Linked DNA regions of Homo sapiens. The protein of the gene in region 1 interacts with the protein of each later gene in a pairwise test. Each region holds a gene or a part of one and is shown on either strand. Other genes may lie near its edges.

Region 1 (3,915 bases):
CACTCTGGGTGACAGAGCAAGACTCTGTCTCAAAAAAACAATCACCTTTAAGGGATGGTTTTTGAACTTCTAACCAATATTTTAAAAAGGTAAAAACCTCATCAATTTCTTTATAACTGCACCCTCTAGTGGCCTGTTTTATCTATTAATTTTTTTTTTTTTTTTGACAGTCTCACTGTCAAAAGTCTCACTGTCCAGCCCAGGCTGGAGTACAGTGGTACAATCTTGGCTCACTGCAGCCTCTACCTCCAGGGTCCAAGCAATTCTTGTGCCTCAGCCACCTCAGTAGCTGCTATTACCAGCATGTGCCATCATGCCTGGCTAATTTTTATATTTTTAGTAGAGACAGGGTTTTGCCCAGGCTGGTTTCAAATTCCTGGCCTCAAGTGATCCGCCCACCTTGGCCTCACAAAGTGCTGGGATTACAGGGGTGAGCCATCACGCTCGGCCATATCTATTAAAAAATTTTAAGACAATCATACACACCAGCCTCACTGCTTAGAGAACCCTGTCCAGTGTGCCTGACCCCTTTTCCCTCCCTCCTTCTCCTCTCACCCCCAAGATAGTTATTTGAAAATGGCTTGAAATACAAACAATAAAACCTTAGATCAAAAAAAATCTCAAAATATAATACATTAACAGACAATGATATAGCTCTACCAAACATTCACACGCAGGCAACAGAATAAGCCTTTGGGTTTACCAAGGACATTTTACAGTCAAAGGGCCACCTGCCCTCCTTCCTTCCCTGACTACATTCTCAGGGAAGCTTTTCCTTGCAGACACTTCGTTGCAAGGTCAGCTTTCTCTCTCAGCACGTTGGCTTCGTCGGCGCTTCTGTGGGCCTGTGCGTTCTTTAGCAAGAAGTGGCTGATGAAAAGCTTCAAACCCTCACGTAACACCCCCAGCTTTGGGTTGTCAGATACTCTGGAAAGGAATCGTATAAACACATGTCAGGGCTGAGCTGGCCTCTCCTAGATCTCAATCCTGGGTATCTCGCATAGTGAGACATAACCAGTTTCTTTTAAAAATAAAATTCTCAATTAAGAACTTCTTAACATATTTTATTATTAACAATCATTGTTAGTTTGCTAGCAGACAAGTTTCTATTCCCCAGATCTAATGCATACCAGCTTAAAAATAAAACCGAAAAGATTAAGCTACACGTATAGTACAACCTTGTGTTTGTAAATCAACACAAGTGAAAACAATCTCTTCATTTCTCTTCCATGTCTCGTCGGAAAGGGTGGGGCACATACCTTGTGAAAATTAAACTGAGGTCTTCAACTTCTGTTTCCATTAATAGGATACTTAATACTTTTCGTAAAAAACGGACTCTGGGTTTGTCCAATTCACTGAATTCAACTACCTAATGGTCAGGACATGGAGAAAAATAAAGTTACACTGATTTAGCCAACTTTTTCAATGATTTGTAATATAGTTAATTAGAGTAAAAATTAATCTCCCCCCTTCCCCCACTCTACCCGATTTAAGAAGCTATTTCCAGAGCTAAGAAATGAACACCTGTTGGCAAGGATGTGGGCCTTGGGAATTCCTACACACTGCTGGCAGAGGTGTGGCCGGCCACAGCCACCGTTGAGAACAACTCAGCAGTGTAAGTGGAATTCCCGGGTCATACACCTTATGAATCAGAAATTCAGTATCTAGAACTGAACCATAAATTACCTCCATTCCCAAAAGTACCCATCCCCTAATTAAAACTATATATATATATATATATATATATATATATATATATATATATATAAAATTTACTTCTAGAAGACTAATCCATATATATCTCTGCCCTAGAAAACTATCAAAAAATCAGAAATAAACACGGATCAGTAGGATAAGTAAGTATATAAACTGAGGCATACGTATACAGTAGGATGCTACCCAGAACAGACTCACGGGCGCCAACGTGGACCCACTGCAATCTTAGCTGAATGTCAGCGAGCTAGAGGAGGGGACTAAACGCATGGTGACGGGAATGCTACCCACAGGGAGGTGCGCAGCCAAACACCATCACAGGCGCTTGCGGACCCGAGGACGCGGCGAGACCACAAAAGCATGGTCGAAACACAGAGAAACTCGGAATGAGAGCAGCCCGGAGGGGCAGGGCGGGGGGCATCTCTAAAGCTCTACGCCTGAGGGTGTGCTCCTGCCACGCCTCTCCCGCTCATCGGTGGTAGCATCTGTGCTGTTCCAGGATGAGCGCAATGCCTGGGCGAGCGAAAGGCAAGGCAGGGGAGCGGAGGGGGAGCAACGCCTCCTCCATGAGCTAAGTTATTCCAGTTGTCAGGATTTGGCGTAAGGCTCGGTGCCCTCATTTTCAGTACAGTGGCCAAACTTGGACACCACACAGCAAGGGACGCAGGGTGAACTGGAGCCGGCATGCTGATGAACTGCACACGACACACAGAAACACACGGGAAGCTGTGGCTGCGGCTGTCTTGTGGGTCTGGGCCACTGCAGTCAACGCCCCTCAACTATCTCTGCTTTTCACTTCCCTTTGCCCCCCAGGCGCTCCAGTTTTTTTTTTTGGCTATTCAGAGTCTGTTGGTCCCACCATCCAAGCCTTACAGGCCCACATCTAACCCCAACTCCACCTGGTAAGATGTCTAGGTTTCAGCTGGGCGCACTGGCTCACACCTGTAATATTAGCACTTTGGGAGGCTGAGGAGGGCAGATCACAAGGTCAGGGGTTCCAGACCAGCTTGGCCAACATGGTGAAATCCCGTCTCTATTAAAAATACAAAAATTAGCTGGGCGTGGTGGCATGAGCCTGTAATCCCAGCCACTTGGGAGGCTGAGGCAGGAGAATCGCTTGAATCCCGGAGGCAGAGGTTGCAGAGATTGCACCACTGCACTCCAGCCTGGGTGACAGAGCAACTCCCATCTTGGGGGGGGAAGAAAAAAGATGTCTGTGTTTCATGGTCCACTGCAAAGTCCCAAAACACAGCAGGGCAGGAGAAAGCCTACAGTTTTAAAACACCTTACATCAACGTGAGCAAACTCACCTCACCTCTAAGGAGACCAGGCCCTACTTCATCCGCCCTTCTCCTCACTAACAGTGACCAGTTCAGGATTTTATAATTAGGACCAGCAAATTAACCTCAAGCTCCAAAACACATTCATTCAGATTAGCAAAAGAACTGCAGCGGTGCCTTCATTTACCAGATCAATTTGTAGCACATGTTAGTCTGGCCGTTTTCTGTCCTGGCTAGGATAATGCAAGCACTTTTCAGATGAATCAGAATCGAAGAAAATACGCTGGTAAAACAGGACCTGATTTACCAGGTACTAAACAATTACACTCCCATTTCCATTGCTTTCAATATTTTCACACGTTACACGAACCTTTAAGATGGAAAGGGAAAGCGATTTTGTCTTCAACAAGTGGGCCACCAGATGAACCAAATTAGAGAAATTCGTAGCTGGCAAGTTTTCCAAGTCCCGAAATTTGTCCCATATGCTGAACTGGAAAGTCATCTAGTATCATAGTTAAAAGGAGAAAAAAGGCAAACGGCCACAAATTACTATAATATATCACTAACAACATAACCTAAAGGTATTTTCTTATTATCTTATTTTTAATATTCTAAACATCAAGACTTTTAGTGGTGGCCTCACTGTTCTTGCCTATAGAGCATAGTCCCAAACAGCTTCACAAGAATCTCCTTCTGGTGCAGTTCTTCCCCCCAAATCAGCAGATACTAACAGAACATTCTAAGGAAAAGGCCACAGCAAGGGGCATCAGAACAGACTGGTGCACTGTGAACCGACGAGGTGCTCCTGCTGGCCTGGCCACACTGCCTGCATCTGTGGCAGAAGCAGGTGACATGAGGACATGGTGGACCCTTGACACTCCCCTCTAGCCCTCCCACTTCCGCTCCCAGTGAAGGTGGCCTG
Region 2 (3,915 bases), on another chromosome or scaffold:
AAGTATTTTATTTTTTTAGAGATGGGGTCTCCCTCTTTCACCTTTTTTTTAGAGATAGGGTCTTGCTCCGTCACCCAGGCTGGAGTGCAGTGGCACGATCATGGCTCACTGCTGCCTTGACATGGGCTCAAGTGATTCTCCTGCCTCAGCCTCCAGAGTAGCTGGGACTACAGGTTCAAGTCACCGTTCCTGGTGGACAATTATTTTAATAATCAAGGCCGGGAGCAGTGGCTCATGCCTGTAATCCCAGCACTTTGGGAGGCCGAGGCAGGTGGATAGTGAGGTCAGGAGTTTGAGACCAGCCTGGCCAACCATGGTTTAGTAGAAACCCCGTCTCTACTAAAAATACAAAAAATGAGCTGGATATGGTGGCGGGTGCCTGTAATCCCAGCTACTCAGGAGGCTGAGGCAGGAGAATCGCTTGAACAGGGAGGCAGAGGTTGCAGTGAGCCAAGATCGCGGCACTGCACTCCAGCTTGGGCAACAGTATGAGACTCCGCTCAAAAAAAAAAAAAAAAAAAAAGGCCGGGCGCGGTGGCTTACGCCTGTAATCCCAGCACTTTGGGAGGCTGAGGCGGGTGGATCATGAGGTCAGGAGATCGAGACCATCCTAGCTAACATGGTGAAACCCTGTCTCTACTAAAAAAAAAAAAAAAAAAAAAAAAATCAGCCGGGCGTGGTGGCAAGTGCCTGTAGTCCCAGCTACTCGGGAGGGCGAGACAGGAGAATCGCTTGAACCCGGGAGGCGGAGGTTGCAGTGAGCCGAGATCGCGCCACTGCACTCCAGCTTGGGCAACAGAGCGAGACTCGGTCTCAAAAAAACCCAAAATATGGCAGTGCAATTTGTTTTCTCATTGCTATCATAAAGCATATGAACAAACTAAATTTCAAATTCCCCGAAAAGGAAAAGTTTATTGCTGATCTAATTAGACAGGTCCGAAAATTTATGTAGAAATAGAAACTTTTCATAATACAAATCTTGATAAAACATTACAAAAGCTACTGGATAATTGACTAAGTATGCTGCAACAGCATCCTGAGCTTCCACAGTGGGCCTGAAGCAGCAAATTAAATGTTAGAGGAGTGGGGACTGAACACCCTCCTGCCTTCTTGAATCCAGCAAGATCTAGATACCAGGATTTCCTTACCTCACCTGCCCAGATACAGGTGTTATTCTTAATTCCAAAAGACAGCTTCAAGTCGGTAAGATCTGATTTCTAGACCCAGCTCTGTTGGACGAGTTGTGAACAAAAAATTATACACTATCATTCACCCTTTCGGTGCTTTATTTCCTAAGGCATGGGATGGGAACAATGAGTATCCGTCCAACCTACTTCACCAGCTTGTGAAAAACCAGAGTGAGAGAACACATCTGAAAGCACTGGGTAATGATGAGGCAGGTTATACTGAAACATGCACTGCCAGAGTTTGAACCAAGTTCTGCTGAAGACCTGTGTGACCGCGGTAAGTCATGTAAATATGAACCGTTCCCCAATTTGTAAAACGTATTCTTTTCATGTCCCCAAACTGGTAGGAGCGAAGAGTGTCGGGGCGTTATTGGAGCCGTTTCTCAGCGCTCCACAGTGCACACCAAGAGGGCAGGTGTCCTCGCACTCGGTTTCTAAACTCTGGCTCTGGGCTTCTCTAGCCTCGCTCTCTTATTTACAGATGAAGAAGGCTCAGAGACCGAGTGACTTGTCCACGGTCACACAAGGAGTAGTGTTACAGAATCGATTCCAGGGCCACCGGGTCTGTAAGGCATTTGGCGCGGTGGCCGTTGGATGAGCAGCCAGCAATGGCGGCTCTGCAATGTCGACACCGCAAAGCCAAGCCAAGGCCCATCACCTAGCGGCCGGTTCACGCACTACAAGAAAAGTGCCGTGAAAAAAGACTCTGGGTGCTGCGGCAGACGGGAGCCAATACGCGCTAAGTTCGCTCTGCTAATTCCTTTTTTCTATTGGTCCTTCCAACTGTCAATCAATTATTTGACTGTCTCTTATTGGCTTGCCGTCAATCATTTTACTCAGTCTACCAATCACACGCTCTTTGCCAAGTGCTTTTTTTCGTCCTGACGACTCTTTCTGAGTCTGACGAATTTAGCCAGTTCCTTTATTCCATTGGCCAGATCAGACTCCTCCTCTCGTTTATCCTGTTGGGGGCGGAAGTGAGAAAGCCCTTATTCGTATTGGCTTAGATTTGCAAGCGGCAGTTGTCTATCAAATCTATCAAGTCGCCCTTAGCGCTCAGGAAGTACGACACCGGAAGGGGTGGGCTTTGCGAAGATGGCGGCGCTGGTGAGTTTGGTGTGGTTTCTTCCTCGCGTAGCTATTGTGGAGTTGTCCTTTGCCTTCAGCGGCTGGAGGCAAACTGTTGGTACCAGGGAAGGGTGGTGATGAAAGTTGCTTCAGGGAGGCGGCCTCCCTAGAGTTACCGTTCCTGTCCGGTAACCCAAGGGGCTGGCTTTAAGGCGAGTCTGTGAACCCGAGTGTGAAGGCCCCGAGTCTGGGTGTCTGACGGAGAGAGGGCAGTTTCCCACCCTAGACGTTCCACTTTCCTATAATCCTGAGGAAAGAATGACTTTTCTTTACGCCTCCTCTCCCTTCTGTAGGGGGTGCTGGAGTCCGACCTGCCAAGTGCCGTGACACTTCTGAAAAATCTCCAGGAGCAAGTGAGTAGTGTCGCCTCTGGAATAAATTAGTCACGGATTGGCTTTGAGTTTGTGTACTTCACCTCAAAACTTTGGTGATTGAGATACGTGAATGCTTCCAAAAACCTTAGAGTAAAATGATGTAATCAAAACCTTTTCACGCCAGAATTCTAAGTAATTGATTCTGCACCCAAGGGAATACAAGAAACTCCAAAAAGAAATTATATGAATAGTTTTCCTTTATTCATATAGCTAAGGAAACCAGTGCTTGGAATGGTAACATGACTTGCCCTTTGGGTGCCCAGGTAATACACACTTATATACAGATGCTTCTCGACTTAACGATGGAGGTTATGGCCTGATAAACCCATTGTAATTCGAAAACCTCATAAGTCGAAATTTAGGCTTGATGCCGCTGCCCAGCATCACGAGAAAAGGACGGTTTCTACCGAATGCATATTTCTTTTACACCCTCGTAAAGTGGAAATTAAGTCATAAGTCGGGGAGTTATGTAGTTCTATGCATTGTAAGTTCAACTAGTACAAACAAAATTACAGTGCTTCAGTCACTACTCTCTCAGTCCTTTTCTCCTCCCTGTGGTTCAGTAAAAGATGGTCTCTTCTTTAAGAAGTGGAAAGTTTTTTTTTTTTTAAACTTTTTGAAGAACCATCTCTCCTATGCTTTCCGAGAAGTGAGAAGATAGTACTATACTTTAGACAGTGTTTCAGATAATTTTTAGGTGGCATTGTTTAGCTTTTGCTCTTCACAGTTTGCAGACATAATTTGATATAATCTAATCACTTGTTTTATTTGGGCTAATTTCAGGTGATGGCTGTAACTGCACAAGTGAAATCACTGACACAAAAAGTTCAAGCTGGTGCCTATCCTACAGAAAAGGTAAGATGTACTCAAACAGTAAGCATCCCCTGACTTAATGTTCTCAGTAGTTCTTTCATTGTATGTTTATTGTGTCTTATATATCCTAAGTGCTCGAGCTTCAAACATAAATATGATCCAGTTTCTGTGCTGAAGTCTAGAGGGAAGACAAAGCAAAGCAATAGATGTAAGTATTAATAGTAGCAGTCACATTACAGAGTTATGAGTCTCCAGCCAAAGAGAGGGATTAATTAACTGCCAGAAGAGCAGAGGGATTCAGGACAGGCTTCCCAGAGGAGGTGATAGGATTTTGAGGAATAAATGGGAGGGACAGAAAGAAGGAACATGTGCAAAGGCACAAAGGCCTGAAAGTATGGTGATAAGGGAAAGGA

What was found.
Region 2: the proteins of NOM1 (region 1) and NGDN interact in binary tests that used the Homo sapiens proteins (3 or more experiments, as listed by UniProt).

The regions. Positions count from the first base shown.
Region 1 is NC_000007.14:156,966,541-156,970,455, reverse strand, and holds part of NOM1 (nucleolar MIF4G domain-containing protein 1), read right to left. Parts: intron 3,496-3,915; coding exon 3,364-3,495; intron 1,370-3,363; coding exon 1,260-1,369; intron 928-1,259; coding exon 753-927; 3' UTR 1-752. UniProt on the Homo sapiens protein: Plays a role in targeting PPP1CA to the nucleolus.
Region 2 is NC_000014.9:23,467,434-23,471,348, forward strand, and holds the start of NGDN (neuroguidin), read left to right. Parts: upstream 1-2,269; 5' UTR 2,270-2,282; coding exon 2,283-2,294; intron 2,295-2,608; coding exon 2,609-2,668; intron 2,669-3,472; coding exon 3,473-3,544; intron 3,545-3,915. UniProt on the Homo sapiens protein: Part of the small subunit (SSU) processome, first precursor of the small eukaryotic ribosomal subunit.